5 linked regions of the Homo sapiens genome follow. The protein of the gene in region 1 purifies or fractionates together with the protein of each later gene. This does not show direct contact. Each region holds a gene or a part of one and is shown in the gene's direction. Other genes may lie near its edges. The genes, in order: GNL3L, OLA1, NUDT14, NMD3 and TERT.

Region 1 (6,468 bases):
ACTCTGCCTACAAAACTCTCTTAGACAGGTGAATATGCCACTAGAAGTTAGGTTGCTGGTAGACCTGGGGGTCCCTGCGGGAGGGTGATGGTTTCTTTACCACCCCACAGGAGATTTCAGTGGCAAGGCATGCCTGCAGTGGGCTTTGGGCCATGCATCTTCCAAGTCCATAGGTCTTCACCTGGGTGGCAGTGAGAAAAAGTAGAAAGTAATGAGCCTCCTGTGTCTCTGGAAGGTTCTAGGGATAGGGTAGAGGGAAGAAGAGAACAAACAAGCCTGGCTTGTGCTGAAGTGTGGTAGGCACTACCCTGTTTGCGTGAAGAGAAAACAAAGCACCTGTTAGTAGGGAGGCTTTAGGGGGAAGCCCCGTCTTGGGGGCATTTCTGGGCAGATTGTGAATTGGAGGAATCTCTTTAACTGAAGTACTCTGGCTGGACCCTGCCCTTGTGTGACCATGTCTCCTATTGCACCAGCATTTGAATTCCATGGCTCAAGAGGGTTCTGGTACCATTTATTCACAGACTGTATCCTCGAGAGAGCTGCTATATATGGGAGTGTACCAGCCAACTCCTTTTCCAGTGTCTGTAAGTCACCTCATTAAAGTATAATTAGCTGTCTCCTCTGGGAGATCCTACCCCATCAGACAAGGGCAGTGAGCCCAAGCAGTGCCAGAGGCCCTCAGAAAGGGATTAGGGTAGATGATTGCAACTGAAACACAATCTTCTTTCTTTGCCAGGGTATTTTGGGGGTTTTGCCCCAAAATATACCCTGGGCATAGCATTACTGCAGTCTTGGATGTCTACCCCAAACTTCCACACCATCCTTCGACCCACAGCTGCACCTTTATTTATTTATTTTGCTCTGTTGCCCAGGCTGGAGTGCAATGGCGTGATCTCGGCTCACTGCAACCTCTGCCTCCCGGGTTCAAGTGATCCTCCTGCCTTAGCCTCCCAAGTAGCTGGGATTACAGGCACCTGCCACCACGCCTGGCTAGTTTTTGTATTTTTAGTAGAGACGATGTTTCACCATGTTGACCAGGCTGGTCTCGAACTCTTGACCTCAAGTGATCCACTCGCTTCGGCCTCCCAAAGTGCTGGGATTATAGGCGTGAGCCACTGTGCCCAGCCTCACAGCTGCATCTTAACCTTACCTTTGCCTCTGCCTCTCAAGCTGGTACCTCCTAATTTACATCCTAAGAGTGGAACCATGTGACAAGGACTGGAGTGCCATTGGCTGTGGACTGTTCAGGCAGGGAAGTACAAGACCACTCTTGTATTCAGGGGCAACCAAAGGAGAGAATTACGTACTTGTTGAGTACAAACTGCACCAAGCCCTGGAGACCCATTACCACCGTTAACCCTCAATACAGCTCTGCTAGTAAGGGATTCGTCTCCCCAAATGAAAAAAAAAAGTAATCTCAGAATGTTGGCCGAGCATGGTGGCTCACACCTGTAATCCCAGTTATGCAGGAGGCTGAGGCAGGAGAATCACTTGATCTCAGGAGGCGGAGGTTGCAGTGAGTCGACATCACACCACTGCACTCCAGCCTGGGGGACAGAGTGAGACTTCGTCTCGGAAAAAAAAAAAAAAAGTTGACAGGATGGCCAGACCCAAGTGGGCGTATTAAGTGGTGGTGCTAGGATTGGAACCCAAGCGTGATTAAAACCCTATGCAGGCCCTTTCCTCTATATTGTACTGCCTCCTTAACAAAGGAAGATTGATTAAGCCCCTACTTTGTGCCAGTCTCTGTTATCAAGTCCGTTAAATGCATTTAACGTTAAATTTTTTCTTTTTTGGTTTAAAAAACTCTAGTTTCTTAAACTACTAGTTTTTAGTGTCTTGCTAAAACTATGTGCTCTTGAATAGGCTACAACTTATTTCACACTATCTCATTGAACTCTCCTGGTATGTGATAGTGTTATAATGAAAAATTGCATACCAGGACAGCTAAGTCTATTTTGCAACCATACAGCGTTTCATAATTTAGCATTTAAAATACAGACAGTCCCCGACTTTTGGTGGTTTGATGTGGGATTTTTGGTGGAAAAGCAGTATACATTCAGAATGCACCTCTACTTATGATGGGGCTACTTCCTGGTAAACCCATTGTAATGTGCAAATTACGGGTTTATCAGGAGGTGACCCCATCGGTAATGGAGAAGTGCTGGGAGGTAAATATTAGAAATGGAAGTATCTAAATGAGTAAGAAACAGCATGGGAGCATAATTTGGCCAAAATCAAACAGAACTAAAGTAGTCATGTCGGTAAGAATTTGGGACTGCAGGCCAGTTACGATAGCTCTCACCTGTAATCCCAGCATTTTGGGAGGCCGAGGCAGGCGGATCACTTGAGGTCAGGAGTTCAAGACCAGCCTAAACAATATGGCGAAACCTCATCTCTACCAAAAAAATACAAAGATTAGCTGGGCATGGTGTCTCATGCCTGTAGTCCCAGCTACCTATGGGGCTGAGGCAGGAGGATCTCTTGAGCCCAGGAGGTCGATGCTGCATTGAGCCGAGATTGTGCCACTGCTCTCCAGCGTGGGCAACAGAGTGAGACTGTCTCAGGGGGAAAAAAAAAGAGGAAAACAAAAAAGACGTTGGGAGTGCAGTTTCTCTACCTACAGCATATCTCAAAGGTTTTTTTTAAAAAAGTATTTTCTTAACTTTTTACCTTCATTTTTCAAAACAATTAGGGTACAATTTACATATAGTAAAGTTCACTCTTTATAGTTTTAGTTATGTGAGTTTGTACAAACATATACAGGAGTGAACCACTACCACAATCGAAATATAGTTGCATCACCCCCCTAAAACTCTCCAGGCCCTTTTGTAGTCAACTCCTACCCCCGACCCTCAGATTCTGCTAACCACTGATTTGTTTTCTGCCCCTATAGTTTTGCTTTAGTATGACTGTCATATCAATAGAATCATACAATGAGTAGGCTTATTTTATGCCTTCAGGTTTTAAAAATTATAAACATTTACATTACAGTAAAATTCACTCTGGTATACAGTTCTATAAAGCTCTGATAAATGTGTAGAGTTGTGTAACCACCAATGCAACCAAGGTACAGAACAGTCCTCTTAGCCTCTCCCTACCAAATTTATTCCTGCTACTTTGTAGTCAAAACCAGTCCCCTACACCCAAACCCTGGCAGTCACTGGTTTTTTTCTTCGTTCTCTTTTTTTTTTTTTTTTTTTTGAGACAGAGTCTAGCTCTGTTGTCCAGGCTGGAGTGGTGCAGTGGCGTGATCTCGGTTCACTGCAACCTCCGCCTCCAGGGTTCAAGCGGTTCTCCTGCCTCAGCCTCCCGAGTAGCTGGGATTATGGGCGCCCGCCACCACGCCCAGCTAATTTTTGTATTTTTAGTAGAGATGGGGTTTCACTGTTTTGGCCAGGCTGGTCTCGAACTCCTGACCTCATGATCCTCCTGCCTCAGCCTCCCAAAGTGCTGGGATTACAAGAGTGAGCCACTGCGCCTGGCCTTTTTCTTTGTTCTTATATTTTTGTCTTTTTTTTTTTTTTTTTTTTGAAACAGAGTCTCACTCTTTCACTGAGGCTGGAGTGCAGTGGCGTGATCTTGGCTCACTGCAACCTCCACCTCCTGGGTTCAAGCGATTCTCCTGCCTTAGCCTCCCGAGTAACAGGGACTACAGGTGCCCACCACCATGCTGGGCTAATTTTTGTATTTTTAGTAGAGGCGGGGGTTTCTCCACACTGGCCAGGCTGGTCTTGAACTTCTGACCTCAAAAGATCCACCCACCTCGGCCTCCCAAAGTGCTGGGATTATAGGCATGAACCACCGTGTCCGGCCATATATTTTCGTCTTTTGAAGACTGTTATATACATGAAATTATATGGTATGTAGCATTTTGAGAGCGACTTCTTTTGCTATGAGTAATACATTTGAGATTCATCCATATTTCTCAGTATATTAATAGTTCTTATTTCTGAGTCACTCCATTGTGTGGATTTACTACTGTTTGTTCCCCAGTTGAAGGATGTTTAGGATCTTTGCAGTTTTGGACAATTACAAGTAAAGCTGCTATAAACATTTGTATGCAACATTTTGTGTTTTCATTTATCTATAGTAAATACCTAGAGTTGGATTGCTGGGATATATGGTAAGCATATGTTTGACATTTTAAGAAACTTCTAAACTGTTTTTCAAAGTGGCTCTACCATTTCACATTCCCATCAGTATGAAAGTTTCATTTCCACATCCTCTCTAGTACTTGGGGGTGTCAGTTTAGTTTTTTAATTTTTAAATTTTTTAATTTTTTTAATACATTTAAATAGAGATGGGGTCTCACTGTGTTGACCAGGATGGTCTTGAACTGCTGGCCTCAAGTAATCCTCCCATCTCGGTCTCCCAAAGTGCTAGGATTACAGGTGTGAGCCACCATGCCCAGCCAGGTTTTTTGACATTAAGTATGTGGTGGTATCTCATCGTTTTTATTTGCATCCTCTAATGATTTGAGCATATTTTATATGCTTATTTGCTATCTACATATCTTCTTTGGCAAGGTGTTCACATCTCTTGCATATTTTGGATTGTTTTATTATTTTTGAATTTTGAGGATTATATGCTGGATACAGGGGTGTTTTTTTTTTTTTTTTTTTTTGAAACAGAGTCCTCACCCAGGTTGGAGTGTAGTGGTGCAATCTCGGCTCACTGCAACCTCTGCCTCCTGGGTTCAAGTAATTCTCATGCCTCAGCCTCCTGAGTAGCTGGAATTACAGGCGCAGGCCACCATGCTTGGCTAACTTTTATATTTTTACCAGAGACAAGGTTTCACCATGTTGGCAAGGCTGGTCTTGAACTCTGGACCTCAAGTGATACACCCGTCTTAGCCTCCCAAAGTTCTGGGATTACAGGCATGAGCCATTGTGCCTGGCCAGTATCTTGTCTTCTCATTCTGTAAACGGTGTCTTTTTTTCATTATGGGAAAGCTTTATTGACACATTTGTTTTTATTTTTAAAAATTATGGTAAAATACACAGAACATAAACGTTACCATCTGATATGGTTTGGCTGTGTCCACACCTAAATCTCGAATTGTAGTTCCCATAATCCCCACACATATGTACCACATTTTCTTTATCCAGTCTTTCGTTGATAGACATTTAGGTCGATTCCATGTCTTTGGTATTGTGAATAGTGCTGCAGTGAACATATGTGTGCATGTGTCTTTATGGCAGAATGATTTATATTATGCATAACCAAAACTGTACTTATTAAACAATAACCTCCCAACCCCTTCTGCCCACAACCTCTGGCGACTGCCATGCTACTTTCTGTCTCTGAATTTGAATACCCTGATAGTCATATAATATTTATCTTTTTGTGACTGGCTTATTTCACTTTGCATAATGTATTCAAGCTTAATCTGTGTTGTAGCCTGCGTCAGAATTTCTTTTCTTTTTAATGCTGAGTATTATTCTATTGTGTGTATATACCACATTTTATTTATCCATTCATCCACTGATGGACATGTGCATTGTTCCCACCTTTTGGCTATTGTGAAAAATGCTGTTATGAATATGGGTATGGAGATCTCTCCCCTTATTTTGAGACAGGATCTCACTGTCACCCAGGCTGGGGTGCAGTGGTGTGCTCATAGGTCACTGTAGCTTCGACCTCCTGGGCTCAAGCGAACCTCCCACCTCCGCCTCTTGAGTAGCTGGGACCACAGGCATGTGCCACCATGGCTGTTAAATTTATTAATTTGTTTTTCTATGGATCATGCTTTTTGTGTTACATCAGAGGAGTCTTTGCTTAACATGAGATGACAAAGGTTTTCTCCCATGTTTCCTCCTAAAAGTTTTATAGTTTTAGGTTTTACATTTAGGTCTATGATCCATTTTGAGTCAATTTTTGTATATGGTACAAGGTATGAATCTATGCTTTTTAAAAAAATATGGTTACCCAATTTTTCTAGCAGTATGTGCTAAAACTTTGCTAAAGTCACTTAGTTCTAGTAGCTTTTTTTGCAGATTTAACCAGACTTTCTACATAGACAATCATATCTTCTGTGAATAAACATGGTTTTATTTCTTCATGTCTAATATATATGTCTGCATTTTTTTTTTTGTCTTATTGTAGTCGCTGGGACTTCCAGTACTACACTGAGTAAGAGTGGTGGCCAGGTGCGGTGGCTCACGCCTGTAATCCCAGCGCTTTGGGAGGCTGAGGTGGGCTGATCACCTGAGGTCGGGAGTTTGAGACCAGTCTGACCAACATGGAGAAACCCCGTCTCTACTAAAAATACAAAATTAGCTGGGTGTGGCAGCGCATGCCTGTAGTCCCAGCTACTTGGGAGGCTGAGGCAGGAGAATCTCTTGAACCCAGGAGGCAGAGGTTGCAGTGAGCCGAGATCACACCATTGCACTCTAGCCTGGGCAACAAGAGCGAAACTCCATCTCAAAAAAAAAAAAAAAGAATGGTGAGCACAGGCATCCCTGT
Region 2 (6,683 bases), on another chromosome or scaffold:
TTTATATATATTATCTAATTTAATAAGTGGTTTGACATTCCCCTCCATTGCAATTTAAATTCTGTGAAGGTAGGAAGGTACCGATTGTCTCGTTCTTGCTTATTGGTATATTTCTAGTGCCTAGACTGGTGTTAGAAACATAGTAGATATTTAGTAATTATTTGTTAACGGGACACGATGGTGTTAGGAACATAGTAGATATTTAGTAATTATTTGTTAATGGGATACATATTTCCCCTTTGACGGCTGGATGTAGATTTAGTGATAAGGAGACATGTTTTTGTTTTTTGAACAAGATTTTATTCTCTTGCCCAGGCTGGAGTGCGGTGGCATGATCATGGCTCACTGCAGCCTAAATCTCCCGGGCTCAAGCAGTCCCTACTCCTCAGCCTCCTGAATAGCTGGAACTGCAGGCACACAAAACACCGTGCCTGGTTAATTTTTGTATTGTTTGTAGATGGAGTTTCACCATGCTGCCCTGAGGCTGGTTTCACAGCCTGACCAGCGTGGTGAAACCCCATCTCTACTAAAAATACAAAAATTAGCCAGGTGTGGTGGCACGCCCCTGTAATCCCAGCTACTCAGGAGGCTGAGGCAGGAGAATTGCTTCAACCTGGGAGGCGGAGGTATCAGTGAGCTGAGATCGCGCCACTGCACTCTAGCCTGGGTGACAGAGCGAGACTCCATCTGAAAAAAAAAACAACAAAAACACAAAAAAGCCTGTCTCCTTGCCCCGTGTGGTGGCTCACGCCTGCTGGAATTACAGGTGTGAGCCACCGTGCTGGGCAATTAAATGACCTCTTTTAATGAAGTAGAAAGAATATGGAGATTTGGTTTCTAGTTCTGTACTGCTTTTTCTTACCTGAGTGACCCTTTATAAATGAGCTCCTGTTGGAGCAGTGTATTATTGTGGTTGTGAGGCTTAGAGAATATTGGGGGCGAAAGTACGTTTTGATACAGTGTTCCAAACTTCTTTATTTCTGTGAGGGATAGCTCTTCTTGTTGCTATCCACTGCATCAGATGGGATTAGGTTCAATTAAGAGCATCAGAAAACCCCAGATAACCAGTTTTTTTTCTTCATGTAAAAATGTACATTTTGCAGTCATAGCTTGGTATAGTGGACCTGCTTTATGAAGTCCTCAGGAACCCATGCTCCTTTCACTTCACAGCTTGGCAATCCCTAGGATGTGGCCTCATCCTCATGGTCTAGAGCTAGGGTTCCCGAACCTCATGCTGGGGACTGGTACCGATCTGTGGCGTGTGAAGAACCAGGCTGCATGGCAGGAGGCGAGCAGCAGGCGAGTGAGCATTCCCACCTTAGCTCCACCTCCGGTCAGGTCAGCAGCAGCATTCGATTCTCAGAGGAGCGCAGGCCCTGTTGTGAACTGCGCATGCAAGAGATCTAGGTTGCACGCTCCTTATGAGAATCGAACTAATGCCTGATGATCTAAAATGGGGCAGTTTCATCCTGAAACCATCCCCCACACCCTTGGTCCGTGGAAAAATTGGCTTCCATCAGCCAATTCACGGTCCAGTCCCTGGTGCCAAAAAGGTTGGCGGCTGCTGGTCTAAGGTGTTGTGAATTCCAGGCAGCTGGTTATCCGAAGGGTCAGGGGGCCAAACTTGACTAGCAGCCTTTTTCCTGTAAACTGCCATACCATACTTCTGCCAACATCCCTTTGTCCAGAATTTAGTCACAAGAATTTAGTTGCAAGGAAGGCAAGGAAATGTAGTCTTTATTTTGACAGCCACATGTTTGGTTAAAAATTCTGTTACTCTTGGCTGGGTGCAGAGGCTCACGCCTGTAATCCCAGCACTTTGGGAGGCTGAGGCAAGCGGATCACTTGAGGTCAGGAGTTTGAGAACAGGCTGGCCAACATGGTGAAACCCCATGTCTACTAAAAATACAAAAATTACCTGGGTGTGGTGGCGCACGCCTCTAATCCCAGCTACTCGGGAGGCCGAGGCAGGAGAATGGCTTGAACCTGGGAGGCAGAGGTTGCAGTGAACCAAGATTGTGCCACTGCACTCCAACCTGGGCCACAGAGTGCGACTCTGTCTTAAAAAGAAAAAACAAAAAACGATTACTCTGAAAGAAGGGGAAAATGGATATTATGGGCAACTAGTATACTGTGTTCAAACACTCACAAACTGCCCCAGGAGAGTAATTGTCTTGTTTAGCTGATCCTTCTGGGAATGCATTTTGGTGTCCCTGCAAATTGCCTTCTCCCAAATTTCTGCAGACCAATCACAGCGTCTGTGAAAGCCATTTACCATTGCTGAGGGAAAAGGTTGTAGAAAATGCTAAAAAAAAGAAAAAATCACAAGAGAATTATCACCATTGTATAGTTATCTGTTGATGTGTAGCAAACCATTCCAAAAGTTCATGGTTTAAAATAGTAACAATTTTTGTTCGTCGGGAATGTAGTGAGTTAGAAAGGTCTTCTGCCAGTCTCATTGGGATCCCTCATGTGACTGCATTCAGCTGGTGGCTAGTTGAGACTGAAAGATCCAAGATGGCCATTTTAACAGATCTGGGGCCTTAGCTGGATTGACTGGAAGTCTGGGGCACTTCTCTTATACTTGGCCTCATTCTCTTTCTAAGTGGTCTCTAGACCAAGCTTCCTTATATCTTGGCGTCTGGCTCTCGAGAGAATGGAGGTGTGGCAGTGGCATAGCAAACTTACACAGAAATCTTTTGGTCAAGGCAAGTCATGACACCAGCCCAGAGACATGGGGAGAGGGGAAATAGACTCTACCTCTTGATGGGAGGAGTGACAAAAAATGTGTGGCCATCTTCAATCCACTGCAGTCCACTATTTTCCTGATACAAAATATGTGATGTCTATGTGTTCCTAGAAGTCTGCCTAGTTGATTCTTAGCTCACTTGTGTTTTAGAAGCTCCATTCTTGATTGCTCAAAGGAACTCACAGGAGGAAAATTATTCTCTAGGCTGCAAATACTGATGATCTGAGTATTTTCATTCTAAAGAGCTGATAAAATTAAGCTAAGAGTCAGATTCCCATGTCTACCGAGAAGACAGGTATCTATGGATATCAGAGATATCTCTTGATGGCTTGTGATTTTGAGCATCTTTCCATATGTTATTGGATATCTTATGTAAAAAGTCTTTTTTTTTCTTAATGATTAGTTTTTTATTCTGGATATGAGTTCTTTGTTGGATATGTATTACAATGATCTCTTGCCAGTTTGCTTGACTTTTCACTTAAGATTAAATTAAAAAAAAATTTGAGCTGGTCTCAGTGGTGCCCACATGTAGTCTCAGCTACTCAGGAGGTTGAGGTAGGAGGATACCTTGAGCCCAGGAGTTCTGGGCTGTGTTGTGCTATGCTGATTGGGTGTCTGCAACGCCACCCACAGTGGTGATCCAGTGTCAGCACTAAGTTCAGCATCAATATGGTGACCTATCAGGAGTGGAGGATCACTAGGTTGTCTAAGGAGGGTGAACTGGTCCAGGTCAAAAACAGAGCAGATCAAAACTCCTGTCCTGATGGGTAGTGAGATCTCTGAATAGCCACTACACTCTAGCCTGGACAATATAGTAAGACCCATATGGAAAAAAAATTTCTTTTGAAATAATTTCATGCTTAAAAAAACTCACAGTTGCAAAAATAGTTTTAAAAATTCCTATTTAACCTCTGCTTGGATCCCCTAAGTGTTAAAATCTTTATAACTATAATACAATGATCAAAATCAGGAAATAAACATTGATTTACTAATTGTCCCTCTAATGTCCTTTTTTTGGTCCAAGATTCAATCCATAATTGTATGTTGCATTTAATTGTTTTTTGTTTTTTTTTTGAGATAGAGTCTCGCTCTGTCATCCAGGCTGGAGTACCTTGGCCTGATCATAGCTCACTGCAGCCTCAAATTCCTGGGCTCAAGTGATGCTTCCACCTCAGCCACCTGAATAGCTGGGACTGCAGGCACATTTTATTATGTCAGGCTAATTTTTAACTTTTTTTTTTTTTTTTTTTTTTGTAGAGATGGGTTCTCACTATGTTGCCCAGGCTGGTCTCAAACTCCTGGCCTCAAGTGATCCTCCCACCTCGTCCTTCCAAGTGCTGGGATTATATGCATGAGCCACTGTGCCCAGCTGCATTTAAGTGTTTTGTTTCCTTAGTTTCCTTTAACCTGGAACACATTCTCAGTCTCTTTTTGTGTTTGATATCCTTGACACTTTTGAAGAGTACTGGCCAGTTATTATGTACAGCTCTCATTTGGGGTTTGTCTGATGTTTCCTCATAATTAATTTCAAGTTATGTACTTTTGAGCACATAAGTGACATATGCTTTTCAATACAGTGTATTAGAAAGCACATGATGTTGATTTGTCCATTTTTGGTGATATTAACTTTGATTGCTCGTTGGTATCTGACAGATTTCTTCACTGAAAGGGTTATTTTTCCCATTGCAATTAATAAGCATCTTGTAGGGGGTCCTTTGAAATTTTGTACATATATTGTTTCTCATACTTTTGCCCCCTAATTTTGGCATGTGTTATTGATTCTTACTGAAACAGTTATTATTGTGGTGTTTGCCAAATGGTGATTAAAAAATATCCCTTATTTCTTCTACATTTAGAAGAAACAATTTGTAGAAGGAACAATGGAACTTCTATTGTGTAAAATCCTATTGTACAAAAGAGTTTCCCATTTATTCATGTATTTGATTATAATTTATTTATATCAGTATAGATTCTTAATTTATTCTTTTGGTTATAATCCATTACTGTTGTTATTTTGTCACTCTAATTGCCCATATTTGGTGATTAGGAGCCTTTATGTTCACTTATATTCCTTTTGACATGTCCTCTTTATTTTTTGAGTGCTTTCTACTTTCTGACACCACAGTATCTTTCAGTTATATACAACATATTTTATATTTCAGTACAATATGTTATTTGTACTCTGTCTGCTTCAGCCTTAGGATACATAAATTTTTATTTAGATATATGATTTTATTTCTCTTAGGTATATATTTAGAAGTAGAATTTCTGGGTCACATGTGACTGTATATTTAACTATTGAGGACTGCCAAACTGTTTTCCAAAGTGGCTGCACCATTTTATGTGCGCACAGGTGGTGTATGTGGGTTCCAATATTTCACATCCTTGTCAACATTTGTTGTTATCTTTTTGATTATAGCCAAGTTGTGAAGTTTTTGATTGGTGTTTTTTCTCTTTTTTTTTTTTTTTTTTTGGACATAGAGTCTCACTCTGTTGCCCAGGCTGGAGTTCTGTGGCACAGTCTTGGCTCACTGCAGCCTCCACCTCCTGGGTTCAAGTGATTCTCCTGCCTCAGCCTCCTAAGTAACAGGGATTATAGGCATGCGCCACCACCAGGTAATTTTTGTATTTTTAATAGAGCCAGGATTTCACCATGTTGACCCAGGCTGGTCTCAAACTCCTGACCTCAGGTGATCCGCCTGCCTCCGCCTCCCAAAGTGCTGGGATTACAGGTATGAGCCACCGTGGCTGGCCAATTGGTGTTTTCTTGATGGCTAAGAATATTGACATCTTTTCATGTGCTTATCACTTCTTCATTTTGAAAGATATTTTCACTGGGTAGAATTCTAGGTTAACAGTTATTCTTCTAGTGCTTTGAAGATAATCTTCTACTTTATTCCCTTTCTGGGATGCCTATTACAGACAAGTGCTGCATAATGATGTTGGTCAATGACTGACTGCATATATGACGGAGGTCCCATGAGATTATAATGGAGGTGAAAATTTTCTATCACCTGGTGATACTGTAGTTGTGGTAATTTCATAGTGCAAGGCATTACTCACGTTTGTGGTGATGCTAGTGTAAACAAGCCTGTGCTGCCAGTCATATAAAAGTATAGCATATACAATTATGTACAGTACGTAATACTTGATAATAAATGACAGTTACTGGCTTATGTATTTACTATAGTTAATTTTTGTTTGTTTGTTTTTTGAGACAGAGTCTTGCTCCATTGCCCAGGCTGGAGTGTAGTTGCCTGATCATAGCTTACTGCAGCCTAGAGCTCCTGGGCTCAAGCAATCCTCCTGCCTCAGCCACCTGAGTATAGCTGTGACTACAGGCACACGCCACCCCACCTGAGTAATTAAAAAGATATATTTTTGTAGAGATGGGGACTTCCTGTGTTGCCTAGGCTGGTCTTGAACTCCTGGCTTCAAGCGATCTCTTTGCCTCAGTCTCTTTGTGCTGGGATTACAGGCATTAGCCTCCATGCCCAGCCTATACTGTAATTTTTATGGTTACTTTAGAGTGTACTCTTTCTACTTATAAAAAAAAAAAGTAACTGTAAAACAGCCGTTGGCAGTTCCTTCAGGAGGTATTCCAGAAGGAAGCATTGTTATCATAGGAGATGACAGCTCCATGTGTGTTATTGCCCCTGAAAACCTTCCTGTGGGACAAAATGTGTAGGTGGAAGACAGTGATATTCATGATCAGACTCCATGTAGGCCTGGGTTAATGTATGTGTTTATGTCTCGGTGTTTAACAAAAAAGTTTTTAAAAAAAGCACACATTTTAAAGATATAAAAAAGCATATGGAATAAGGATATAAAGAAAAAATATTTTTGTACAGCTATACAGTGTATTTGTATTTTAAGCTAAGTGTTATTACAAAAGAGTCAGTAAGTTAAAATTAAAGTTGATAAAGTAAAAAGT
Region 3 (6,120 bases), on another chromosome or scaffold:
TGACGTTGGCCATATGGGATGCCTGCTTGTGGCTGCACAGTCCCCACAGGGCTGGGTCTCAGGCAGCAGGTGCAGGCCCAGGCAGGTGCCCTCTGTGGCCCTGGTGGCAGCACTCTCTCCCTCACTCCCCGTGAAGCCTCAGGGCAGCCCTTGCAGCCTCAGCGGGCAGCCCGCCGGCACAGCTCTGCTGAAGGGTTCTGGTGACCAGAGCTGAGCTGGTTCGGGCTGTGGCTGTGGTGGACACGGATGTAGGCTCGGGCTGGGCGGCATCTCCTCAGGGCCAAGGGACATTGGGCTGGACGCTGGCTGCCACCCAGGGGCAGCTGCAGCCCTCAGCTTTTTGCTGCGTCCAGCCAGGGGAGGCCTGTGATGTCAGGCAGACCAAAGGCAGGGGACCCCCGTGGCTCCGAGGCGATGGGGTCTTCTTTGCACCCAGCCCTGCCCCTCCCTCCCAGGCCTCAGCAGCCTCCCTAAACCTCCCTGCACCTTGACCTGGCTGGACCTAAGGGTCTGACACGCTTTTGACCTTGAGCTGAGAGGGTCCTTGAGACCTGCATGGGGTGATGTTACTCGGGGGGAAGCAGTGGTGGGGAAGGGGCATGGGCACAGCAGGCACATGGCAGGCTGTGGGCAGGGGGCTTCCCTGGAGCCTGCCCTGGCTGGGTGGTGGTTCGGGGGTGGCTGGGTGTCAGGCAGGCCTGGGGTCGCCTCCCGGGAGTGGTACCCCACGGCCTCTCGGGCTGCCTGACCTGCGCGGGACGCCGGCCCTCCCTTCCCTTGGAAACCGGTACTCTCCTCCCAGGACGCCTTTGCCTCCCGGCCAAGCTCAGAGGGCCTCTGCGCCTCTGCCTGCCCAGAGTCCCTTCCCTCACTTCCGTCACCTCCTCCAGAAAGTCCTCAGGAAGGCTTCTTCTCTCTTCTGCAGTCCTGGCTGCACTTCTGTGTCTCTGCTGCTCAGACCTCTTGTCCATTTCACAGCCCTGGGCAGAGCCCCCGGTGGGGGATGAGCAGCTGGCCTGGGCCTCAGAGTGGCAGATGGGCTGAGCGTGCCGGAGATGGGACCCCGCGGGACCCCAGGCTCAGCCCCCAGGATGGGAGTGCATCTCAGAATGCATCAGTTCCAGCCTCCCCCAGCAGGCCCAGCCCACACACCTGCCCACCCTGCCTCCTCCGTTCACTGAGTGCCACCCAGGGTGCAGGGGCCTGCCAGGGTGGTGTGCCCAGTGTGGGGGAGTGGGAAGGTGGAGGGTGGCCACAGGAGAACGGGACCACAGGGTATGTGGGAGAGTCGAGGCCAGAAACTGGGGGTAGGGGTGTGTGGGGGGGCTGCCGAGCCTGGTCACCATCATGACAGTCACCGAGTCCTGCAGTGCGATCTCCTACCTGGCTGGGGCGCCACCCTTCCTCATCTGCTCCTGGTGCCAGCCCCTCCTGCCACCCTTCCCCATCCACTCCTGGTGCCGGCCCCTCCTGCCCTCCCGTCTCCACCTGTTCAGTGGCCCAAGGAAGCATCAGCAGGAAAACCTGACCTCTCCTCTGCCTGCAGGGCCCTCCTGCCCTGCTGTGAGGGAGTCACGCCTGCCCTCCCCGAGCCTCCATGAGCCTTCCTATACTTGGTGACGGTGTACGTCTCTCTGCAGCCCCTTGTGCTCGGTCTGTGCTGGGCAGTGTTTCATGAGGTGCCTGGACACCTTCCCTGCCCTTTGCCCTGGTCTTCTGCCTCACTCGTAGGGTATTAGGCTGTCCTTGACCTCCCTGCCCCTCCCAGGCTGCTTGCTCCTCTGCCCACGGGAGCTGCAGTTCCTGGCTCCCGTGGGCCCAGGCCACGAGCCGATCTCCCTGGTTAGGAGTGGGTGCAATGGGTCTGTGGCCTCCTCGGTTCCCCGAGCACCTCCGCCCATCCTGGGACATTCTAACCGCTGACCTGCCCCTTCTAGAATGGTGCCCAGAAGTCCTGGGACTTCATGAAGACGCATGACAGGTGAGAGCCTGGCCCAGCCTGGCCACTGGGGAAGCCCCAGACTGATGTCTACGGGGACACTGGGCCCAGGGCGAAGGTGCCCTCTCCTCCCTGACGTTGCTGTTCCCTGCGTGGGCTCCAAAAGTCCCTTCTCTCTGCCCGGCCTCTGGGTTTCCTATCCCTGAGGGGTCAGCCTGAGGCCTGGGGGCTGAGTCAGGTCTTTGCTCAGGCCACCGGGACCATGATGGTGGGCAGGCCCTCTCAGGGCAGGGAGAGGCTGTCCTGGAGCCTTTGCCCCTAGCATCCAGGGTCTGGGCTGGATGGCGACGTGGCTCGAGGAGTGTGGCTGGTGGGCAGCTGCTCAGTGAGGGCCAAACGTCCTGTCAGTCACCCGGCCTCAGCTGCGAGCACCCTGACCTACTCAGCTGCCCGTGTGTCCTTCCCTGCCCCCCGCCTCCCATCCTGCCAGCTGGAATACAGCAGGTCTGGGTCCTGGCCAGACTGTGACCCTGGAAAGCTCTGGTCCCGCCTGGGCCTCAGCCATCCTATCTGAGCAAGGGGCCTGACCTCCCTGGGCTGCTGGCAAGGAGGTGGGATGGCCACGCTGGGAACAGAAAGATGGGAGGTGGGGCCCCACGAGGGCCAGTGGAGTGCTTCTGTGCTGAGCCCCTCCCCCCGTACACAGCGTGACCGTTCTCTTATTCAACTCTTCTCGGAGGAGCCTGGTGTTGGTGAAGCAGTTCCGGCCAGGTGAGGCCAGCTGGGGTGGGAAGGGGATCTGCAGGGTCACCTTCAGGTCCCTGTGGTCCTGAGGGTCTGAATACAGATGTGGGAGGGGGCTCCAGGGGAAGCTGAGGCCCTGGGAGGGGGCTTGGCTGTGTGGGTGACCTGGAGGTGGCCACCACGTGGCTGTGAGCACAGTCTGGCTTCTTCCCACGCAGCTGTGTATGCGGGTGAGGTGGAGCGCCGCTTCCCAGGGTCCCTAGCAGCTGTAGACCAGGACGGGCCTCGGGAGCTACAGCCAGCCCTGCCCGGCTCAGCGGGGGTGACAGTTGAGCTGTGTGCCGGCCTCGTGGACCAGCCTGGGCTCTCGCTGGAGGAAGTGGCTTGCAAGGAGGCTTGGGAGGAGTGTGGCTACCACTTGGCCCCCTCTGATCTGCGCCGGGTCGCCACATACTGGTGAGTGGGACCAGGCCCTCAGGCCTGTGGTGTGACTCAGGAGATGGGAGAGAGTGAGGGCCCCGTCCCTGGGAGTGTGCAAGCAGGATGGATTCCTCCTTGTTTTCCAACATGGGATTAGGGGAGGGTTGGACCGAATGCGCCTCAGCTCCTAAGCCAGGCCAGAATCTGGGCTCTTGGGGCTCTCTCTGCAGCGTCTCGGCCCCATGCCCCCAGCCTGCGGCCCCCAGCTGTGTGAGGCAGGCCGGGTGACAGCTGCTGCTGACAGGTGCCTCTACTTCCTGTAGGATTAAGACCGGGCGCTGGGGGTGGGGGTGACTCACAGCTCTGTTCTCAGAGGGTGGCTTAGGAATGAGGGAGAAGCTGTGTCCTGGGCTGGAGAAGGGGTGGCTCCAGCTCTCCTGGGGAACAGGCACTAGAGCCTGCGCTTTGGGACCTGACCCACCAAACTCGAGGCACCAACTCTTGCCCCGCGAGGGCTGCCAGCTGGGGTGGGGTTGCCTTCCCAGGACTAGATGTTGGTATGAAGCCCATCCACTTCCCCAGGGACGCTACGATGGGCTCCTGACCCCAGCTGAGGTCTTGGGGAAGGAGGAGGGTGTCACAGACCCCCACCCCCACCAGCTGAGCACCAGCCTCCACAGCCTCCTCCAGAGGCCAGGGCCCGCTCCACTGGGAGAAGCACCGGAAGTCTCTGCACCTGTCAGCCTGGCACATGGGCCACTCAGGGTTGAGCCTGGGGCCCTCCCACCTCAGCAGCCTCAAGGACTTCACCTGGGCACGTTCCTGGCTGGATGGGTGGACTCCCAAGTTAAAGGCAGCATTTCCACGCTGGGCCAGGCACGGTGGCTCACGCCTGTAATCCCAGCACTTTGGGAGGCCGAGGCAGGCGGATCACCTGAGGTCAGGAGTTCGAGACCAGCCTGACCACATGGAGAAACCCCGCCTCTGCTAAAAGTACAAAATTAGCCAGGCGTGGTGGCAGGAGCCTGTAATTCCAGCTACTCAGGAGACTGAGGCAGGAGAATCGCTTGAACCCAGGAGGCGGAGGTTGCGGTGAGCCTGAACCCAGGAGGCGGAGGTTGCGGTGAGCCGAGATCGCGCCATTGCACTCTAGCCTGGGCAACAAGAGCGAAACTCTGTCTCAACAAAACAGAATTTCCATGCCGAAGGGTGGACTTGGGTGTGAAGGATGGGCCTTGGTTTTCTGCAGGTGTCTACCCCGTGGTGGGCCACGCCCACTGTGCCCCCAGCTCCCCAGCCCATAGTACTGAGCACAGCCGGGAGGCATGGGAGGGGCTGGAGTCCCCTTGGTCCCCCTGGAGGAGGTGGGCCTGGGCAGGTTCCTGGCAGAGGGACCGCACAGGCTCTCAGGGCAAGTGGTCAAGCAGCCCTGGCCGCGGTGGTTCTACTGGTACAGCCTCTGGGCCACAGCCTGATTGTGAGGGTGCTGGGGAGCCAAGGAGGGCTCTGGGAAGTAGGCATCCTGCTTAGACTCGCATCGGGAAGAGCAGGCCGTGGCTTCAGGGATGCAGGACTGGAGATGCTGCTGACTAGGGGTCAGGGTGTCCGTCTCTGAGGGCCTGATGGGGGGCTGGACTGACAGCAAAGTTCACCCACCCTGTGGCAGGGCCCGTGGCTCCCTGTCTCTGATTCTGGAGGTGAGCCAGGCCTCTTACCTGCCGCTGCAAAGGACAAGGCCCAGGGAGGCAGTCAGCTTGGGGCGTGATGGAGTGAAGTTGGAACGTGCCCTGGGGTGGGGGAGGCGTTGCCCAGCCTGGCTGGCAGATTCCTCTCAGCCCGGGCCAAGGGCCGGGCCTGTCTCCTTCACAAGCCGGCGGAAACCGGGGCTGGAAACCCCAGACCCGCCACTTCCCTCAGAGGCGCAGCCGCGGCCGCCGCCGGAAATGGGCCATCAGGAAGGGGTCTGCGGGAGGTGAGGGGCTAGAGGGCAAGGAAGCAGCTGGGTAAGGTCGGTCTGGGGTGAGTCCCCCCGGAGGTGGGGAGGCCTTGGGGGTGGGGCATGGAAGCCCCCAGTTCTGTCCCTGCCCCTGTATGTTGGGTACATCTCAGAGGGCGGCCTCTACCCTGCAGGCCTCCGGCTGGCCTTGGTTCATGGCACCCGACAGCCCCTCCTGCGGCGAGCCAGGGCTCCCCCACCCCCTGGTCATCTTCCCAGATGCCCCTCAGTCCCGTTTCTCCCCAGATCCACACCTGGCCCTCCCCCTCCTGTTCCAGAATGCAGCCCAGCCCCTCTGCCATCCTGTCCTCCTAGCCCGTGGTCTCCCTCCACACACGCCAGTCCAGGCTCCTTCCCTTGGTGCCTGACCCCTCCTGGCTGCCAGCAGCCCCCTTCTGGCCACTGCCCACTGAGGGAGGGGGCTTCCTCTTACCCCTCCCCAGCCTGGGCCACTGGGCCTGGTACTGAGGACCTCGCTGCCACCCCACCCCACTCTGCCATGCTACGGGGGGTGGGGGGGCGGTCAGTGCATGCTGTTCCTAGTCTGAAACTTGTGTCCTGTGGGTGCCTGGTGGGGAACCCTTGCGGGAAGGCCTGGTGGGTTTGTCCCTGCTTCCCAGCCAGCCTGTGTCCCCGGGTATGGGCTGGGGTCTGGCATGGGCCTCTGCAGCTGGCCACAGACTGAGGGGCTCCAAACAGCACTGGGAACAGCCTCAGGGTATCTGGTTGGGGGCTGCAGACAGGGGTGGGGTCTTCTGCTTGGCCTTGACAGGTTGCAGGCAGGTTGTCAGCCGGATCTGCAATCTCATGGGGGCTTGGGGTCTTCCCGGCTCACGAGGTTATGGCAGAATTCAGCTCCTGGTGGCTGGGGACTGGGTCCCACCTCCCTGCTGGCTGTTGGCCCTTCCCAGCATGGCGGTTGCTTCCCCTTCAGGGCCAGCAGGACTGGCCTGAATTTCTCCCTTTCTGGCGTTGAAACACCCTCTGGAGGGCTTCGTGATCGGGCCATGCCCGCCTAGGA
Region 4 (3,500 bases), on another chromosome or scaffold:
CAATCAGGAAGCATATATTGGGTTAACCACCCACTCACAGAGGTGGTAGGACTTGTGCTCCAAAGATCGGGAAATTTTCATAGCTGGAGTTTATATTGAAAGGTACTATTAGTGTGAACAAAGATTTGCAGTGGGCGTTAGTATGGCTTTTAATAATGCTATATAGAAAGTAGATTGGTCTGAGCCAACAGCATGTTCTAGAGGTTTGGTGGAAAAGGTTCAAAATAGGTAGGGCTTAGTTAGAATGGTGAAGGTTTTGACATGCAAGTGCAGGACAGTAGGTTTTACCAGAGGAGGCATCATGAAGCCATTTTAGACCTTGGACAATGATGGTTTGATTTAATGAAAATTGATATTCCTGAGTCCATACAGGTTAATGATCTTTGTCTTTATATTACTACTAACTTTTTTCTTAATAGATACAAAGCATCACAAAGACTGATCTCTCAAGATATCCATAGTAACACATACAATTACAAAAGCACTTTTTCTGTGGAAATTGTTCCAATATGCAAGGTACTTTTCTTTTTCATTTAATCCATATCTGTAAAAGAGTACAAGTAATTAATTGGCTTATATGTAATTTGTAGCTCCTGGTTTTCCTCTAGGGTTGGTTAAAAATTTAGAATAAGTTCCTTAAGTGACTTCTAACACATTCAGCCATGTTAAAAGATATATATTTTTAAAAAAGTCATGCTTATAATTATGAATTGACATGCCTTTTATTTTGGTGTATTAAAATGAAAAGACCTGGTTATAGTTGATAAAAGTCCGTATTCTTTGAAATTTGTGATCCTATGAGCCTGTATCATATAGTTCAGTGAAATTGAATAAAAGAAATGACATTAAAATCAATATTAGTGAGCCACTTTGTGGAATATGTACAAACAAAATTTTGGCAAGAAATGAAAGAATATTGTGATAATGTGAAAATGAGATCATAGAATCATTTTTATGATTTTAAAACATAAGCTGAATAAAACATTTAAAATGTAGATTATTTCATTTAATTGTACTAAGATAAAACTCTGCTTCAGAAAAATATGAATTAAAATTCAATAAATAGTTATTGAGTATCTATAGTATAGAAGGCTGTGTACTGAGGATTGTATAACTACAGGTCTCTGCCATGTAAGAATTTATATGTCAGTATTAAATCACTAAGAATGATAACTGCCATTATTGTGACCATTCTACATAAAGTTAATCTAGATACTTTAGTGTCTTTCACCTCATTCTCATCTCATAATAACTGAGGTAAGCCATATCATTTTGACGATGAGGAAATTGAAGTTTGAGGAGGTTAGATAACTTGCCCAAAGTTACATGATCACAAAATGATGAAGCTAGGATTTGCACCCAGGTCTGTGTCTCCAAAGCTTTAAAACTGCTATTGCTATTTTATAGTATGTACTAGGGATGAAATGATAGCTTAAAATAGGGTCAGCAAACTTTCTCTGTAAAGAGACAGATGGTAAATTTTTTAACTTTCAGGTCGTATAATCTCTTTTGCAGCTACTCAGCTTTGCTGTTGTACAAAAGTAGCATGGGTAATATGTAAAGGAATGTCAGGGCCGTGTTCTGGTAAAACTTTATTTACAAAAACAGATGGTGGGTCAGATTTGTCCTGAGGGTGGCATTTTGCCAACCTCTGGTTTAAAACAGTAAATGTTTCCCTGGTACAAATCTTGAGAAATATGAATTTAGGTGTGAGGGCATATTTAGGCCTTGTGTAACTGAGTTTTACACATGTAAAAATTAACATATGTATTAAACTATGTAAAAAAGTATATTTGTTTATCTTTGGAAACTCATGTATTAAAAACCAAGGACTGAACTAAGAGCTGTTATGATTGTGAATAGATACACCTTAAAATATAACTCAGATCTTTTTTGTATTTTAATTCAGTTTAAAAACAGATAATTACGTTGCTGCTTCATGTCTCCCAATATAAATGTAGACATGTGACTTTTTTGGGCTTAAATCTTTGATTGTATATTGGCACATGTAGCCATGTAAGAGAAATGTGTTCCTTTGAAGTTTATTTTTTAATGGAGATTGAAAGAAGTCACAGGTGGATTTATAGAATCACTCTCCTGCTAATGTTTATAATACTCTGTTTAGAATGTACACTGTATTAACATATAGAGTGATAAGAGGCATTCACACTGCAATAAAATGGAAATAATAATAGCTTGGTGATTTGGGCCCTGGATTTTTTTTTTTTTTTTGAGAGACAGTTTTGCTCTGTCACCTAGGCTAGAGTGCAGTGGCACCACCTTAACTCACTGAAGCCTCGACCTCCTGGGCCCAGGCTGTCATTCCACCTCAGCCTCCCAAGTAGCTAGGCCCACAGGCATGCACCACCACGTTTGGCTAATTAAAATATATATATATATGTATATGGAGACAGGGTCTCCATATGTTGTCCAGGTTAGACTTGAACTCCTGGGCTCAAGGGATTCTCCCACCTTGTCCTCCCAGATTGCTGGAATTACAGGAGTGAGCCAGCGTGCTCAGCCAGGATTTTTTTTTTTTTAAAGCATTTTTATTAAGACAAGATGCCTGTCATACTTAAGGTCTGATTCTTTTCTTTAGTCTCTTTGTTGATTGATAGAATTGAAAATAACGTTTTGGTTGGTCAAATGCAATTGGATTGGGTGTTTATTGATGAGTGTTTATTGGACTGTTATTTAGGATATGCCTCATTCTAAATGTTAGTTCTTATGCCTAGGATAATGTTGTCTGTCTGTCTCCAAAACTGGCACAAAGCCTGGGAAATATGAACCAGATTTGTGTGTGTATTCGAGTAACCAGTGCCATTCACCTCATTGATCCAAACACCCTACAAGGTAAATTCTGGAAATGATTTGCCTTGACAATTTTGTTTTGTATGACAAACAATAATAATTTGTGTTGTTAATTTTTCAAGCATTCTTGCTAATATTGTTTTGAAAGGTTAGTTAAAATTTGTGCTATTGTTTAATACAAAACATTGTGGAATTTGCAAGCTTTGATTAGTTACTTTTGTATTTTTTATTTAAAGAAACAATTCTGTTAATTTTTACATATTTACTGGTTTATTCCATTAATTTTTACTGAAATTGACTTTTTTTTTTTTTTTTTTGAGATGGAGTCTGGCTCTATTGCCCAGGCTGGTGTGCAGTGGCGCAATCTCAGCTCACTGCAACCTCCGCCTCCCAGGTTCAAGCTATTCTCCTGCTGCAGCTTCCCAAGTAGCTGGGATTACAGGTGCCTGCCACCATGCCCAGCTAATTTTTGTATTTTTAGTAGAGACGGGGTTTCACTGTGTTGGCCAGGCTGGTCTTGAACTCCTGACCTCGTGATCTGCCCGCCTCGGCCTCCCAAGGTGCTGGGATTACAAGCGTGAGCCACCATGTCCAGCCTGAAATTGACTTATTTACCTCATTTAATTTTTGTGACTATTTACTTAAGTCCATTGCCAAAATTTGGTGTCTAGCAGTTATTTTAAATTTTG
Region 5 (6,683 bases), on another chromosome or scaffold:
TTTGAATGGCTGTGAGATTTTGTCTGCAATGTTCGGCTGATGAGAGTGTGAGATTGTGACAGATTCAAGCTGGATTTGCATCAGTGAGGGACGGGAGCGCTGGTCTGGGAGATGCCAGCCTGGCTGAGCCCAGGCCATGGTATTAGCTTCTCCGTGTCCCGCCCAGGCTGACTGTGGAGGGCTTTAGTCAGAAGATCAGGGCTTCCCCAGCTCCCCTGCACACTCGAGTCCCTGGGGGGCCTTGTGACACCCCATGCCCCAAATCAGGATGTCTGCAGAGGGAGCTGGCAGCAGACCTCGTCAGAGGTAACACAGCCTCTGGGCTGGGGACCCCGACGTGGTGCTGGGGCCATTTCCTTGCATCTGGGGGAGGGTCAGGGCTTTCCCTGTGGGAACAAGTTAATACACAATGCACCTTACTTAGACTTTACACGTATTTAATGGTGTGCGACCCAACATGGTCATTTGACCAGTATTTTGGAAAGAATTTAATTGGGGTGACCGGAAGGAGCAGACAGACGTGGTGGTCCCCAAGATGCTCCTTGTCACTACTGGGACTGTTGTTCTGCCTGGGGGGCCTTGGAGGCCCCTCCTCCCTGGACAGGGTACCGTGCCTTTTCTACTCTGCTGGGCCTGCGGCCTGCGGTCAGGGCACCAGCTCCGGAGCACCCGCGGCCCCAGTGTCCACGGAGTGCCAGGCTGTCAGCCACAGATGCCCAGGTCCAGGTGTGGCCGCTCCAGCCCCCGTGCCCCCATGGGTGGTTTTGGGGGAAAAGGCCAAAGGGCAGAGGTGTCAGGAGACTGGTGGGCTCATGAGAGCTGATTCTGCTCCTTGGCTGAGCTGCCCTGAGCAGCCTCTCCCGCCCTCTCCATCTGAAGGGATGTGGCTCTTTCTACCTGGGGGTCCTGCCTGGGGCCAGCCTTGGGCTACCCCAGTGGCTGTACCAGAGGGACAGGCATCCTGTGTGGAGGGGCATGGGTTCACGTGGCCCCAGATGCAGCCTGGGACCAGGCTCCCTGGTGCTGATGGTGGGACAGTCACCCTGGGGGTTGACCGCCGGACTGGGCGTCCCCAGGGTTGACTATAGGACCAGGTGTCCAGGTGCCCTGCAAGTAGAGGGGCTCTCAGAGGCGTCTGGCTGGCATGGGTGGACGTGGCCCCGGGCATGGCCTTCAGCGTGTGCTGCCGTGGGTGCCCTGAGCCCTCACTGAGTCGGTGGGGGCTTGTGGCTTCCCGTGAGCTTCCCCCTAGTCTGTTGTCTGGCTGAGCAAGCCTCCTGAGGGGCTCTCTATTGCAGACAGCACTTGAAGAGGGTGCAGCTGCGGGAGCTGTCGGAAGCAGAGGTCAGGCAGCATCGGGAAGCCAGGCCCGCCCTGCTGACGTCCAGACTCCGCTTCATCCCCAAGCCTGACGGGCTGCGGCCGATTGTGAACATGGACTACGTCGTGGGAGCCAGAACGTTCCGCAGAGAAAAGAGGGTGGCTGTGCTTTGGTTTAACTTCCTTTTTAAACAGAAGTGCGTTTGAGCCCCACATTTGGTATCAGCTTAGATGAAGGGCCCGGAGGAGGGGCCACGGGACACAGCCAGGGCCATGGCACGGCGCCAACCCATTTGTGCGCACAGTGAGGTGGCCGAGGTGCCGGTGCCTCCAGAAAAGCAGCGTGGGGGTGTAGGGGGAGCTCCTGGGGCAGGGACAGGCTCTGAGGACCACAAGAAGCAGCCGGGCCAGGGCCTGGATGCAGCACGGCCCGAGGTCCTGGATCCGTGTCCTGCTGTGGTGCGCAGCCTCCGTGCGCTTCCGCTTACGGGGCCCGGGGACCAGGCCACGACTGCCAGGAGCCCACCGGGCTCTGAGGATCCTGGACCTTGCCCCACGGCTCCTGCACCCCACCCCTGTGGCTGCGGTGGCTGCGGTGACCCCGTCATCTGAGGAGAGTGTGGGGTGAGGTGGACAGAGGTGTGGCATGAGGATCCCGTGTGCAACACACATGCGGCCAGGAACCCGTTTCAAACAGGGTCTGAGGAAGCTGGGAGGGGTTCTAGGTCCCGGGTCTGGGTGGCTGGGGACACTGGGGAGGGGCTGCTTCTCCCCTGGGTCCCTATGGTGGGGTGGGCACTTGGCCGGATCCACTTTCCTGACTGTCTCCCATGCTGTCCCCGCCAGGCCGAGCGTCTCACCTCGAGGGTGAAGGCACTGTTCAGCGTGCTCAACTACGAGCGGGCGCGGCGCCCCGGCCTCCTGGGCGCCTCTGTGCTGGGCCTGGACGATATCCACAGGGCCTGGCGCACCTTCGTGCTGCGTGTGCGGGCCCAGGACCCGCCGCCTGAGCTGTACTTTGTCAAGGTGGGTGCCGGGGACCCCCGTGAGCAGCCCTGCTGGACCTTGGGAGTGGCTGCCTGATTGGCACCTCATGTTGGGTGGAGGAGGTACTCCTGGGTGGGCCGCAGGGAGTGCAGGTGACCCTGTCACTGTTGAGGACACACCTGGCACCTAGGGTGGAGGCCTTCAGCCTTTCCTGCAGCACATGGGGCCGACTGTGCACCCTGACTGCCCGGGCTCCTATTCCCAAGGAGGGTCCCACTGGATTCCAGTTTCCGTCAGAGAAGGAACCGCAACGGCTCAGCCACCAGGCCCCGGTGCCTTGCACCCCAGTCCTGAGCCAGGGGTCTCCTGTCCTGAGGCTCAGAGAGGGGACACAGCCCGCCCTGCCCTTGGGGTCTGGAGTGGTGGGGGTCAGAGAGAGAGTGGGGGACACCGCCAGGCCAGGCCCTGAGGGCAGAGGTGATGTCTGAGTTTCTGCGTGGCCACTGTCAGTCTCCTCGCCTCCACTCACACAGGTGGATGTGACGGGCGCGTACGACACCATCCCCCAGGACAGGCTCACGGAGGTCATCGCCAGCATCATCAAACCCCAGAACACGTACTGCGTGCGTCGGTATGCCGTGGTCCAGAAGGCCGCCCATGGGCACGTCCGCAAGGCCTTCAAGAGCCACGTAAGGTTCACGTGTGATAGTCGTGTCCAGGATGTGTGTCTCTGGGATATGAATGTGTCTAGAATGCAGTCGTGTCTGTGATGCGTTTCTGTGGTGGAGGTACTTCCATGATTTACACATCTGTGATATGCGTGTGTGGCACGTGTGTGTCGTGGTGCATGTATCTGTGGCGTGCATATTTGTGGTGTGTGTGTGTGTGGCACGTGTGTGTCCATGGTGTGTGTGCCTGTGGTGTGCATGTGTGTGTGTCTGTGACACGTGCATGTTCATGCTGTGTGCTGCATGTCTGTGATGTGCCTATTTGTGGTGTGTGTGTGTGCATGTGTCCGTGACATATGCGTGTCTATGGCATGGGTGTGTGTGGCCCCTTGGCCTTACTCCTTCCTCCTCCAGGCATGGTCCGCACCATTGTCCTCACGCTCTCGGGTGCTGGTTTGGGGAGCTCCACATTCAGGGTCCTCACTTCTAGCATGGGTGCCCCTGTCCTGTCACAGGGCTGGGCCTTGGAGACTGTAAGCCAGGTTTGAGAGGAGAGTAGGGATGCTGGTGGTACCTTCCTGGACCCCTGGCACCCCCAGGACCCCAGTCTGGCCTATGCCGGCTCCATGAGATATAGGAAGGCTGATTCAGGCCTCGCTCCCCGGGACACACTCCTCCCAGAGCGGCCGGGGGCCTTGGGGCTCGGCAGGGGTGAAAGGGGCCCTGGGCTTGGGTTCCCACCCAGTGGTCATGAGCACGCTGGAGGGGTAAGCCCTCAAAGTCGTGCCAGGCCGGGGTGCAGAGGTGAAGAAGTATCCCTGGAGCTTCGGTCTGGGGAGAGGCACATGTGGAAACCCACAAGGACCTCTTTCTCTGACTTCTTGAGCTATCGCAGCTACTTGCAAATCTCAGCAGAATTTTACCCTCATGGAAAGCTGATGGCCACCACCTGTGCCCAGGTGTAGAAAGTCACTAGAGCCCAGGAGACCCCCCCGTCCCCACCGCCCACCTGTGCCCGGGTGTAGAAAGTCACCAGAGCCCAGGAGACCCCCCCCCACATCCCCGCTGCAGCGGAAGCTACCGCCCCCACCGTGACCCTCGTTCCGACCTCGACCTCCATGGTCTCCCTCTCCCGGTCTCCATGTGAGTGAGATCAGGCAGGAGGTGGGTTTTGGGGTTCGAGCCTCAGCTATGCTGAACGCCTCAGCTGTGCGTTCTGTCCATGAATGGCATCCGTTGTGGAACTCGCCACGTGGATGTATCCTTCCCGCTGCTGTGGAGGCTCCTGGGTGCGGACTGCACGGCTGCGCCTGCTGTGAGCCTGCTGGGTTCTGGGAGTGTCCCAGGGGTCAGAGGCCCTCGCCTCTGGGTGAATTCCAGGGGTGGGGTTGCTGGGTCACAGACGTGCTTTAGGGATGTTGTGGGAGTTTCCAGGGGGGTGACAGTGACACCCCGGCTGGCTGCTTGTGAGGGCGATGCCTCCGGTGGCCGCTGGCCTGAAGGTGTCGAAGCCGCCTCGTGGGATTGTGCAGGGGGCTCTCTTGATGCCCACGTGCCCACAGTGTTCCCGTGCTGGCCGCCCCGGGGCTCTTGCGGGAGGTGGCTGTCCGTCCTGCCCCGCTCTGTATGGGGCGCCTGCCTGCCATCATCGGCTTGCAGGAGCTCTTTGTGTGTTCTGCTGCAAGTGTGGCATCACATGCGTGCACTGTGAATCTCTGTGCCGTGTGTGTCTTGCTTTTGTGCTCTCAAGTCAAGCCTTTTGAGGACTGGAAGATTGTACTTCTATCGCAGTCCACTAACACAGTCCAGTAACGCAGTCCACTTTATCAGCTGTTTGTGGCTAAAGCTGTTTGTGTTCTCTGCAGGAACTCAAGGTATTGAGGTTGTGGTGACGTTGCTTCTGCGCCTCCTTTTAGAACAGTCTTTACTGTGTCAGCTTGCAAACCTGGGTGGGGATTGGTGGAATTGGTTTTCATGTGTGGGGTAGGTGGGGATCTGTGGGATTGGTTTTCATGTGTGGTGTAGGTGGAGATCTGTGAATTGGTTTTCATCCGTGGGGTAGGTGGGGATCTGTGGGATTGGTTTTTATGTGTGGGGTAGGTGGGATTGGTTTTCATGTGCGGGGTAGGTGGGGATCTGTGGGATTGGTTTTCTTGTGTGGGGTAGGTGGGGATCTGTGGGATTGGTTTTTATGTGTGGGGTAGGTGGGGATATGTGAATTGGTTTTCATCCGTGGGGTAGGTGGGGATCTGTGGGATTGGTTTTTATGCGTGGGGTAGGTGGGGATCTGTGAATTGGTTTTCATCCGTGGGGTAGGTGGGGATCTGTGGGATTGGTTTTCATGTGTGGGATAGGTGGGGATCTGTGGAGTTGGTTTTCATGTGTGGTGTAGGTGGAGATCTGTGAATTGGTTTTCATCCGTGGGGTAGGTGGGGATCTGTGGGATTGGTTTCTATGTGTGGGGTAGGTGGGGACCTGTGGGATTGGTTTTTATGTGTGGGGTAGGTGGGGATCTGTGAATTGGTTTTCATCCGTGGGGTAGGTGGGGATCTGTGGGATTGGTTTTCATGTGTGGGGTAGGTGGGGATCTGTGGGATTGGTTTTCATGTGTGGGGTAGGTGGGGATCTGTGGGATTGGTTTTCATGTGTGGGGTAGGTGGGGATCTGTGGAGTTGGTTTTTATGTGTGGGGGTAGGTGGGGATCTGTGGAGTTGGTTTTCATGTGTAGGGTAGGTGGAGATCTGTGGGATTGGTTTTCATGTGTGGGGTAGGTGGGGATCTGTGGGATTGGTTTTCATGTGTGGGGTAGGTGGGGATCTGTGGGATTGGTTTTCATGTGTGGGGTAGGTGGGGATCTGTGGAGTTGGTTTTCATGTGTGGGGTAGGTGGAGATCTGTGGGATTGGTTTTCATGTGTGGGATAGGTGGGGATCTGTGGGATTGGTTTTTATGAGTGGGGTAACACAGAGTTCAAGGCGAGCTTTCTTCCTGTAGTGGGTCTGCAGGTGCTCCAACAGCTTTATTGAGGAGACCATATCTTCCTTTGAACTATGGTCGGGTTTATAGTAAGTCAGGGGTGTGGAGGCCTCCCCTGGGCTCCCTGTTCTGTTTCTTCCACTCTGGGGTCGTGTGGTGCCTGCTGTGGTGTGTGGCCGGTGGGCAGGGCTTCCAGGCCTCCTTGTGTTCATTGGCCTGGATGTGGCCCTGGCTACGCTCCGTCCTTGGAATTCCCCTGCGAGTTGGAGGCTTGCTTTCTTTCTTTTTTTCTTTCTTTTTTTTTTTTTTTGATAACAGAGTCTCGCTCTTTTTTGCCCAGGCTGGAGTGGTTTGGCGTGATCTTGGCTCACTGCAACCTGTGCTTCCTGAGTTCAAGCAATTCTCTTGCCTCAGCCTCCCAAGTAGCTGGAATTATAGGCGCCCACCACCATGCTGACTAATTTTTGTAATTTTAGTAGAGACGAGGTTTCTCCATGTTGGCCAGGCTGGTCTCGAACTCCTGACCTCAGGTGATCCTCCCACCTCGGCCTCCCAAAGTGCTGGGATGACAGGTGTGAACCGCCGCGCCCGGCCGAGACTCGCTTCCTGCAGCTTCCGTGAGATCTGCAGCGATAGCTGCCTGCAGCCTTGGTGCTGACAACCTCCGTTTTCCTTCTCCAGGTCTCGCTAGGGGTCTTTCCATTTCATGACTCTCTTCACAGAAGAGTTTCAC

What was found.
Region 2: the proteins of GNL3L (region 1) and OLA1 fractionate together in Homo sapiens (co-fractionation; one large-scale study listed by BioGRID). This does not show direct contact.
Region 3: the proteins of GNL3L (region 1) and NUDT14 purify together in Homo sapiens (affinity purification with mass spectrometry; one large-scale study listed by BioGRID and IntAct). This does not show direct contact.
Region 4: the proteins of GNL3L (region 1) and NMD3 fractionate together in Homo sapiens (co-fractionation; one large-scale study listed by BioGRID). This does not show direct contact.
Region 5: the proteins of GNL3L (region 1) and TERT purify together in Homo sapiens (affinity purification with western blotting, with the first as the bait; one study listed by BioGRID). This does not show direct contact.

What each region holds. Positions count from the first base shown.
Region 1 is NC_000023.11:54,561,219-54,567,686, forward strand, and holds the end of GNL3L (guanine nucleotide-binding protein-like 3-like protein), read left to right. Parts: 3' UTR 1-6,071; downstream 6,072-6,468.
Region 2 is NC_000002.12:174,237,034-174,243,716, reverse strand, and holds part of OLA1 (obg-like ATPase 1), read left to right. Parts: intron 1-6,683. UniProt on the Homo sapiens protein: Hydrolyzes ATP, and can also hydrolyze GTP with lower efficiency. Has lower affinity for GTP.
Region 3 is NC_000014.9:105,173,553-105,179,672, reverse strand, and holds part of NUDT14 (uridine diphosphate glucose pyrophosphatase NUDT14), read left to right. Parts: intron 1-1,937; coding exon 1,938-1,981; intron 1,982-2,645; coding exon 2,646-2,710; intron 2,711-2,901; coding exon 2,902-3,139; intron 3,140-3,685; coding exon of another isoform or gene 3,686-3,707; exon of another isoform or gene 3,708-4,185; intron 4,186-6,120. UniProt on the Homo sapiens protein: Hydrolyzes UDP-glucose to glucose 1-phosphate and UMP and ADP-ribose to ribose 5-phosphate and AMP. The physiological substrate is probably UDP-glucose. Poor activity on other substrates such as ADP-glucose, CDP-glucose, GDP-glucose and GDP-mannose.
Region 4 is NC_000003.12:161,238,311-161,241,810, forward strand, and holds part of NMD3 (60S ribosomal export protein NMD3), read left to right. Parts: intron 1-419; coding exon 420-516; intron 517-2,735; coding exon 2,736-2,853; intron 2,854-3,500. UniProt on the Homo sapiens protein: Acts as an adapter for the XPO1/CRM1-mediated export of the 60S ribosomal subunit.
Region 5 is NC_000005.10:1,274,954-1,281,636, reverse strand, and holds part of TERT (telomerase reverse transcriptase), read left to right. Parts: intron 1-1,298; coding exon 1,299-1,479; intron 1,480-2,166; coding exon 2,167-2,346; intron 2,347-2,840; coding exon 2,841-2,996; intron 2,997-6,683. UniProt on the Homo sapiens protein: Telomerase is a ribonucleoprotein enzyme essential for the replication of chromosome termini in most eukaryotes. Active in progenitor and cancer cells. Inactive, or very low activity, in normal somatic cells.